Homo sapiens: one gene and its partner. The protein of the gene in region 2 interacts with the protein of the main gene of each other region in a pairwise test. Each region holds a gene or a part of one and is shown on either strand. Other genes may lie near its edges.

What was found.
Region 1: the proteins of CHRM2 (region 2) and GJC2 interact in a two-hybrid assay, tested with the Homo sapiens proteins (one large-scale study listed by BioGRID and IntAct).

Annotation. Positions count from the first base shown.
Region 1 is NC_000001.11:228,156,234-228,160,052, reverse strand, and holds the end of GJC2 (gap junction gamma-2 protein), read right to left. Parts: intron 2,314-3,819; 5' UTR 2,295-2,313; coding exon 975-2,294; 3' UTR 227-974; downstream 1-226. UniProt on the Homo sapiens protein: One gap junction consists of a cluster of closely packed pairs of transmembrane channels, the connexons, through which materials of low MW diffuse from one cell to a neighboring cell. May play a role in myelination in central and peripheral nervous systems.
Region 2 is NC_000007.14:137,011,410-137,015,228, forward strand, and holds part of CHRM2 (muscarinic acetylcholine receptor M2), read left to right. Parts: intron 1-3,410; 5' UTR 3,411-3,456; coding exon 3,457-3,819. UniProt on the Homo sapiens protein: The muscarinic acetylcholine receptor mediates various cellular responses, including inhibition of adenylate cyclase, breakdown of phosphoinositides and modulation of potassium channels through the action of G proteins.

The DNA of each region.
Region 1 (3,819 bases), on a different chromosome or scaffold from region 2:
CTACAGGGGCTCGCCTGTGACCATACTCCCCTGCCAGTCCCTGGGGAGGGGTCTCCTCTCCCAGCCAGCCTGGAGCTAAGCCATGTCTCCCCATGTGGTAGCCATGCACACACACCCATGCATACACATATAAGCATACACCCAGACATGCACACAATGCACATACATGTGCATGCAGTCACACACATAGCCACACGTGCACATGCATACACATGCACACACAAGGTTATAAACAAGTTAGTTTTATTTTACTCCCTTTCCTCTTGAGGCTGGGTCTGAATTAGGGAGGAGGACAGACAGGCCACAGGCAGGAACCCAGAGCCCCATTCCCCCAGCATGGCCAAGCCCCCAGGCCCTGACCACCACCCATTGGGTCCAAGCTGCAAGGCATATCAACATCTTTGCAGAACTTCAAGCCTCCCAGAGGAACGGAAGGCCGGCATCGCAGAAGCTCAAAGAGGGTATGGTCCTGTCCACCCCAGGCTCCCAGCTCCCAGTCTGTCTCAGTTTGGGGCTGGGAAGGGGAGGGCTGAAGAAGGAGCCCCATTTGCTGTTGCAGGGAATGGGGACACGCACCCCCGCACCCCCACCAACTGATGCCCATACCAGGCACCCTGGGCCCTCCATGGGTTGCTGCAGGGAAGCACAAAGGGGAGAGCTGGCATCCCAGAGGACCTATTCCAGCTCAGGACAGGGGTGGAGTCAATGCCCCACTCCCCCTGGGGTTCAGACCACAGCAGAGGGCCCTTTCTGGCTCCTAGGCCTCTCTCCACCCCACCTTGGCCCCAGTGGTGACCAAGCCAGGGCACTCCTCTGCCGCTTTCAGCCCCTTCCCTGAGCAGCCTGGCTGCCCCTCTGGGCAGAGTCTGCCTGAGGCCACCGGCTAAGGAGAAGGCTGAGGAGAAGGGGTCGCAGGTTTCCACCGGAGCCCCCCAACCCTCCTCCTCCCTGGCCCAGCTCGCAAGCCAGCGCCCTCAGATCCACACGGTGGTCTTCCCGTCCCTGCTGCTGGCACTGCCCTTCTCGGAGCCAGCCCTGGGCTTGGCTCCTGGCCGCTCGTGGGTGCCGGGCCGGCCCTGCTCCCCGACAGTGCCCGCAGAGGTAGCACTGCCCGTCCGGGACGCGGGGGCGCCTGCTCTGGGGGGCCCCCGGGAGGCCGCAGGGAGGCCGACGCACGGCGAACTGTCCCGGTCGCGGTCCCCAGCCGCTGCCCCGTCGCGCAGCGCCTGCAGGGCCAGGTTTGCCAGGTTCTGGTCATGCGCCCGAGCGCGCTCGGCCGCCCGCACCACCAGGCTGTAGTCGGGCGGGCAGGCCAAGCCAGCGGCCGCCGCAGGGAAGGCGCAGGGCGGGGGCCGCGGCGCGGGGGCGGGGGCGGAGGCCGGGGGGCCGCGGCGGCCGCGCACCGCGTCCTGCGCGCTGCCCAAGCCCAGGTGGGCCATCTCACAGAGGTTGAGCAGCAGGCACAGGCAGCTGACCACGTACATAACCAGCAGGAAGACCGTCTTTTCAGTAGGGCGCGACACGAAGCAGTCCACCACGTGCGGGCAGGGCTGGCGGCTGCAGGGAAAGAACGGTCGCACCTCGAAGCCGTACAGCAGGTACTGGCCCACCAGGAAGGCCACCTCGAAAGCTGCCCTGGCCACCAGCTGGGCCACGTACACGCGCATCAGGCCCTCCCGCTGGATGCGCCTCCGCCCATCGTGTTGCCCGGTCGGGCCCGGGGTCCCTGCCGCCTTGCCGTCAGCGCCGACCGCCTTAGTGCACGCCTCCTCCGCGCCTGCCTCCTCCGCTTCCTCGCCGGCGCCCTCGGCTGCCCCCGTCTCCTCCTCCTCCTCCTCCTCGCCCAGGCCCAGCATGGGCTCCTCCTCGCCCAGGTCGGCGGGCTCAGGCCAGCCGGCGTGCGGGGGCGGCAGGTGCGCTCGGGGCGCGCGGCGTGGCCCCGGGCGGCGGCGGAGGGCGCGGCGCCGCTCCTGCTCAGACGCACGGGCCAGGCGGTGCACGGCGTAGCCCAGGTACATGACCGAGGGCGTGGAGATGACCACAATCTGGAAGACCCAGAAGCGCACGTGCGACAGGGGCGCGAAGGCGTCATAGCAGACGTTGTCGCAGCCTGGCTGCCGCGTGTTGCAAGTGAACTTGGCCTGCTCGTCCGAGTAGATGGCCTCGCCGCCCACAGCCGTCAGCACGATGCGGAAGACCACCAGCACCGTGAGCCACACCTTGCCCACGAAGGTGGAGTGGTTGTGGATCTCCTCCAGCAGCCGCGTCAGGAAGCTCCAGCTCATGTTGGTCATAGGGGCGGGCGGGCGGGTCCTGTGGGGCGGGGTAGGGGTCAGCCAGGGGCCTGCACTTAGGAGCCCGCGGCGCTCAGAGCCGGGGCTCCAGGCTTGCCTCGCAGCTGGCCCCTCTCTGCTTACACAGTCAATGACGTGGAGCTTACCGCCTTAAACGGAAGTGGAAGCCCCCACCTGATCCGGCCCCTGCTCGTGCAGATGCAGGGCCCCAGCTGGGTGAGTTGCCTTCATGAGGCAGATGGGGACACTGAGGCAAGCACCACTCAAGTGTGTGGGGACTGGTGGTCTCAGTGTCCACTGCACCCATGGCCACCAACCCAGCCCCAGCCGCATCCAGGTTGTTGGGGAGGGTCCCACAGAGTTTCAGCATCCAAAGGGTCTCCCCAGCCTGCCTAGCCACTCAATCCCTCCTGGCCCCTCCAGCTCCCTAGCCCCCAAGCCCCTGCAGCCCCATCAGCCCTCAGTCCTTCACAGCCCCCCGTGCCTGCACCACCATCAGCTCCCAGACCCCAAAGTGCCACCAGTCCACAATCCCCATAGCCCCTCGGCCCCCAGAGGCCCTGCTCTGCCTCCCTCCACACCCTGGACAGGGGCGTCGGGGTCCCTCCACACCCTGGACAGGGGCGTCGGGGTCCCTCCACCTCCACAAAATCCTCCATCCTCCCTCCAGCCCCCGGCTGGTCCCGCTGCCCTTCTCAGGTGCCCAGGGTCCCAGGGCTCCGCCCGCCCAGTCTAGGTTCCTGGTCCTCCATGGTCTCAACCCAGACCATCTCTAGCTGGGGTCAGGATGAAGCCAGTCGTCCGTCCAGGAGGGACGGTGTCCAGCGAGGTTATAGACCCAGTGATGTGAGGCCACACTCAGCACCTGCGACCCTCAGAGACAGCTATGCCGCAGACCAGCCAAGCCCAAGGTGGGCAAGTGCCCAGGAAAGGGCTGTGCAGCAGGGCCTGTGCTCCAAAGAAGGAGAGCTCCTGCAGCTCCCCTGCCCACCCTCTGCTGGCGGTTGCCCCAGGGCCAGTACCTGCTCCTGGGTCGCTGAGGCAGGAGACCCCTTAGCTCCCTCCGCCTCTGGCCCCCTCCCGGTACCTGGCCTGGGAGGCAGCAGCGGCAGGTGTGGGACCAGCAGCAGTCGCTGGTGAGGCTCCCGGCCTCTTTATGCAGCTGAGGCCTCCCCACCCGGGGCAGGAAGAGGGGGCAGTCAGGGTTCCTGGGGAAGTGGCCCTGCTTCCTCACATCTGTGCAGTACCCCTCAGAGCCACACACATTCACATGTGCACACACACTCAGATACATACCCACAGATTCACATGTGTACACATGCACACACGTGCACATGCATGAACACGCACATGCATATGCAGATACCCATGCACACACATGCATACACATGTACACGTGCATGCTCAGACACACATGCAAACAGGGTTAATGCAAACAGATGTATGTGTACATCCACAGGCATGCTTCTTTGCACTCACATGCAGATGCACATGCATGAAAACAGTGGCACATACACACTTGTGC
Region 2 (3,819 bases):
CCTGGTGTAAGTCCTGGAGTTCAAAGCCCGGTCTGCCTGGAATTCTGATGTCCAAGACCGCAGAAGAAAAGTCTATCACAGTTTCCAAGACAGATCAAGTCACCTTCTGAAATTGTTCTCACTGGGCTCTGGCCAATTGGATGATGCACTCCAACACTGAGGGCAAAATTCCCCATCTAGTCCATTCACACTCAAACACGAATTGCCTCTGGAAACACCCTCACAGACACATCCGAATTAATATTTTATCAGGTTTCTAGGTATTCCTTAATTCTGCCAAGTTGACACCTAAAATTAAGTTCACAAGTCCACCACTTGTCAGCCTAGTGTTCATATACATCTCCTCAAACTATATGTTATTTCCAAATAAAAGCAGTAACAAGGTGATGGTTCCACCTAACATGATGCAGGCCAATGTGATGAGACCATCCTGCATGCAAGTGAAATGCCAACCCCTTTTCCAGAATTCAGCTTTCAGGATTTCAACATTCAGAATTTTAATCTTTCAGGATTGTAATTTTGGGGATTTTGGACCTTAGCAATTTAGATCCTCATCAAACTAGTTGATTTTGAATCCCTACTTTTCAACATCAGTGTTATTCATTATTCTCCAGAGGAAATTATCAAAAATCTTTTAAAAACTAGAATATAAGTCCTATGCTTTATCAAAATTATGAATAATTAAAATGCAGAGTCAATACATTCATTTTTTGTATTTTTCAAACTAAGTGAATTAATATTAACATTTCATGAAACAGATACACATATAGCTCAACTCCAAACTGTCCATGAATTTATCTAATAAACAGAGAAAATGCTGCTTATAAGCAAGTCACAATTCTGATCTTACAGTTAGCTGAGCTATTAAGAAATTGTTGGAATAAGAACTGGGATAATAAAATGTTTTTGTTCAAATAAATTACCATGAATATACAATTGTATGATTAATTGCAAAAAAGGATTGTCAAAGGGAAATCCGATTAAAATAATTCAACTGATCTAAGTTGCATTCCATTAACATCATTTCCCTGATTAAACTCTTCAATATTTCCCAATGAGCTGCAGGCATACATATGTAATATTACATATAATCACCTTTTTGCTTAAATAAAATTATATTCTGTAATAATCTATGTCTCACTATGATTATGTCATCTTCTAACTATATAACTTTCCACAGCAATGCCAGGACACAAATATCTACCTGTTTTACTAGCCGCATAATATTCCATTGTAAGAGTATTCCATAATATATTTAACCAATCCCTTGTCAATGAATAGTTTTAATATATCTCGGGATTTTTTTGCTATAACAACATTTCTGAGTGAACATACTTGAGTAGACCTCTTTGTACATTTTTATGACTCTATCTGAAAGACACATTCCTAAATGTGGCATTCCTGAGACAAGTGTTTCTTAATACATTTTTATAGATACAGATTTAAAGTTCTATAGATATAGATACATTATCCTTCGTGGTGATTATCCCGCTAGTCCCACCAAAAGTATTCAACACTACCATTAATACTACGGATGGAAAATTGTTTTTCACTGTCTGGATTTGCATCTTTAAACTGTGGGGTTGAGTATCATTTCATATGTTTAAAAGTCATTAATGTCTAATTTTTCTTTGATTGAACTACTACATCAATGTTTTAGATTATTCATCTTTCATCTTTCCTTTTTTGCCAAAACTCTATTATATTAAAGACATTGGATAATTTTCTATCGTGCAATTTACAAATATTGTTTCTCAATTGTTATTTTGACTTTTTTGCTCTATGCAAAAATTTTAAAGGAATATGCAACAGTTACATATATTTTCCTTTCTGGCTTCTGAATTTTGGGTCTTATTATATTAAGGCCAAATCCCATTATTTGGGTTTTGTCAAATAAAATACTGGAAAACAATTGACTTTCCAAAGCAGAAAAAATTATTTTTTTAAATGTTATTTGTGTTATGAAGTTGCTTACCAAATTATTTTCTACATGGATTTCAAGGGCAAACCACTGCCCATTTCTTTGTAATTAATAGCATCCAAACTAATCAATATTCCCAAATTTTAATTTCTCAGCAATGCTTATTTTCTGACAGCTCACAGCAATTTTTTCAAAAAGAGGTGGAACTTGGGCTAGTTTCTGCTTCAGATGCTGTTTCTCCAGAAATGTGTCATATCTCTTTGATGAATTCTTAACTTTCTTTTCTAAATCCCCAATATACATTTTCCATTATGAAAGATCACTCAATTGTCATCAGACTTCAATGATATTATCTCAAAAATGATGATTATGTGTTTACTTACACACAACAGGATAGGGAAACAAGAAGTGCATTCAGGTTTAATAATTGCTTCTTCATCAACCCATGTCTGCCACCAGGCAGAGACCTTGTTTTAATCATCATTGAACGTCCAGAACACCTAATTAAGAGAAGCTGCTCAATAGATATGTGAGCACAAAGTGAAAGAATGAATGACTGAACAAACTGGGATTTCATCTTTCTGAGCCTTAGTTCCTTCTACAAAACAAAAAGTTTGGCAGAAAGAATAGTAAGATAATAGATTTGATAGTGGTTTGAAAAACAAAACATTCAGAAAAGTGGTATTTTCTCCCATAATTTTGTCTTCTTATTGATGTATTAATTTGTATGTCTATTCCAGAAATCTCTTTATGCTTTGGAAAGTCTTATGCATAATTTTGGCTTTTTCAGTTCAATATGCATTTAATAAGCAAATATTCTTGTGTAAGATATGGAATATTGGAAATGCTGATTATGTAATACTGATTACAAGTATGAAATAAAATAGAGGCAAGAGGAAAATAATTCTCATCTAGGGAGAGTATACTGGCTATTAAGTATTATTATATTATCTTTATTTTCACCATCCTCAGTGTTATTGTGAAAAAGGCTTAGAGCTTCCATGAGGAAAGGCACTGTTAACTATAAAAGTCACACATTCAATATTATACATTCTATGCTTTCTTCTATAATTGTGTCCTCTCACTAATTTACTAATTTTTATGTCTATTCCAGGAATCCCTTGATGTTTTAGAAAGTGTTGTTTGTAATTTTGGTTTATTTAATTCAATTTATCAGTATTATGCTAAGTTTCATGGATTGATGAGATATATAGGTAGATAGGTAGGTAGATAGATACTCATATCTGGATAAGGACATATTTAAAACATTACTGGACTTCAAGTTCATTGCCAGCCTGAAAGGTCCTTTTGAATCCTCCATTTGAAGGTCTTGCTTTTTACATGGGGAATTGAGGCAGGTAGACACAGTAATCATGCAGGGGAAGGGAGATTTGGGAGAAAATAATGTGGTTTAAAAGGAGAAACAACATTATGTATTTTAAACCAATGTTTATATTATGTTTGTTAATTTTATTCTATTTCCTTGCAGGTTTAAATGTTTATTTGCTACTTGGCTACTGATTAGAGAACGCAAAATGAATAACTCAACAAACTCCTCTAACAATAGCCTGGCTCTTACAAGTCCTTATAAGACATTTGAAGTGGTGTTTATTGTCCTGGTGGCTGGATCCCTCAGTTTGGTGACCATTATCGGGAACATCCTAGTCATGGTTTCCATTAAAGTCAACCGCCACCTCCAGACCGTCAACAATTACTTTTTATTCAGCTTGGCCTGTGCTGACCTTATCATAGGTGTTTTCTCCATGAACTTGTACACCCTCTACACTGTGATTGGTTACTGGCCTTTGGGACCTGTGGTGTGTGACCTTTGGCTAGCCCTGGACTATGTGGTCAGCAATGCCTCAGTTATGAATCTGCTCATCATCAGCTTTGACAGG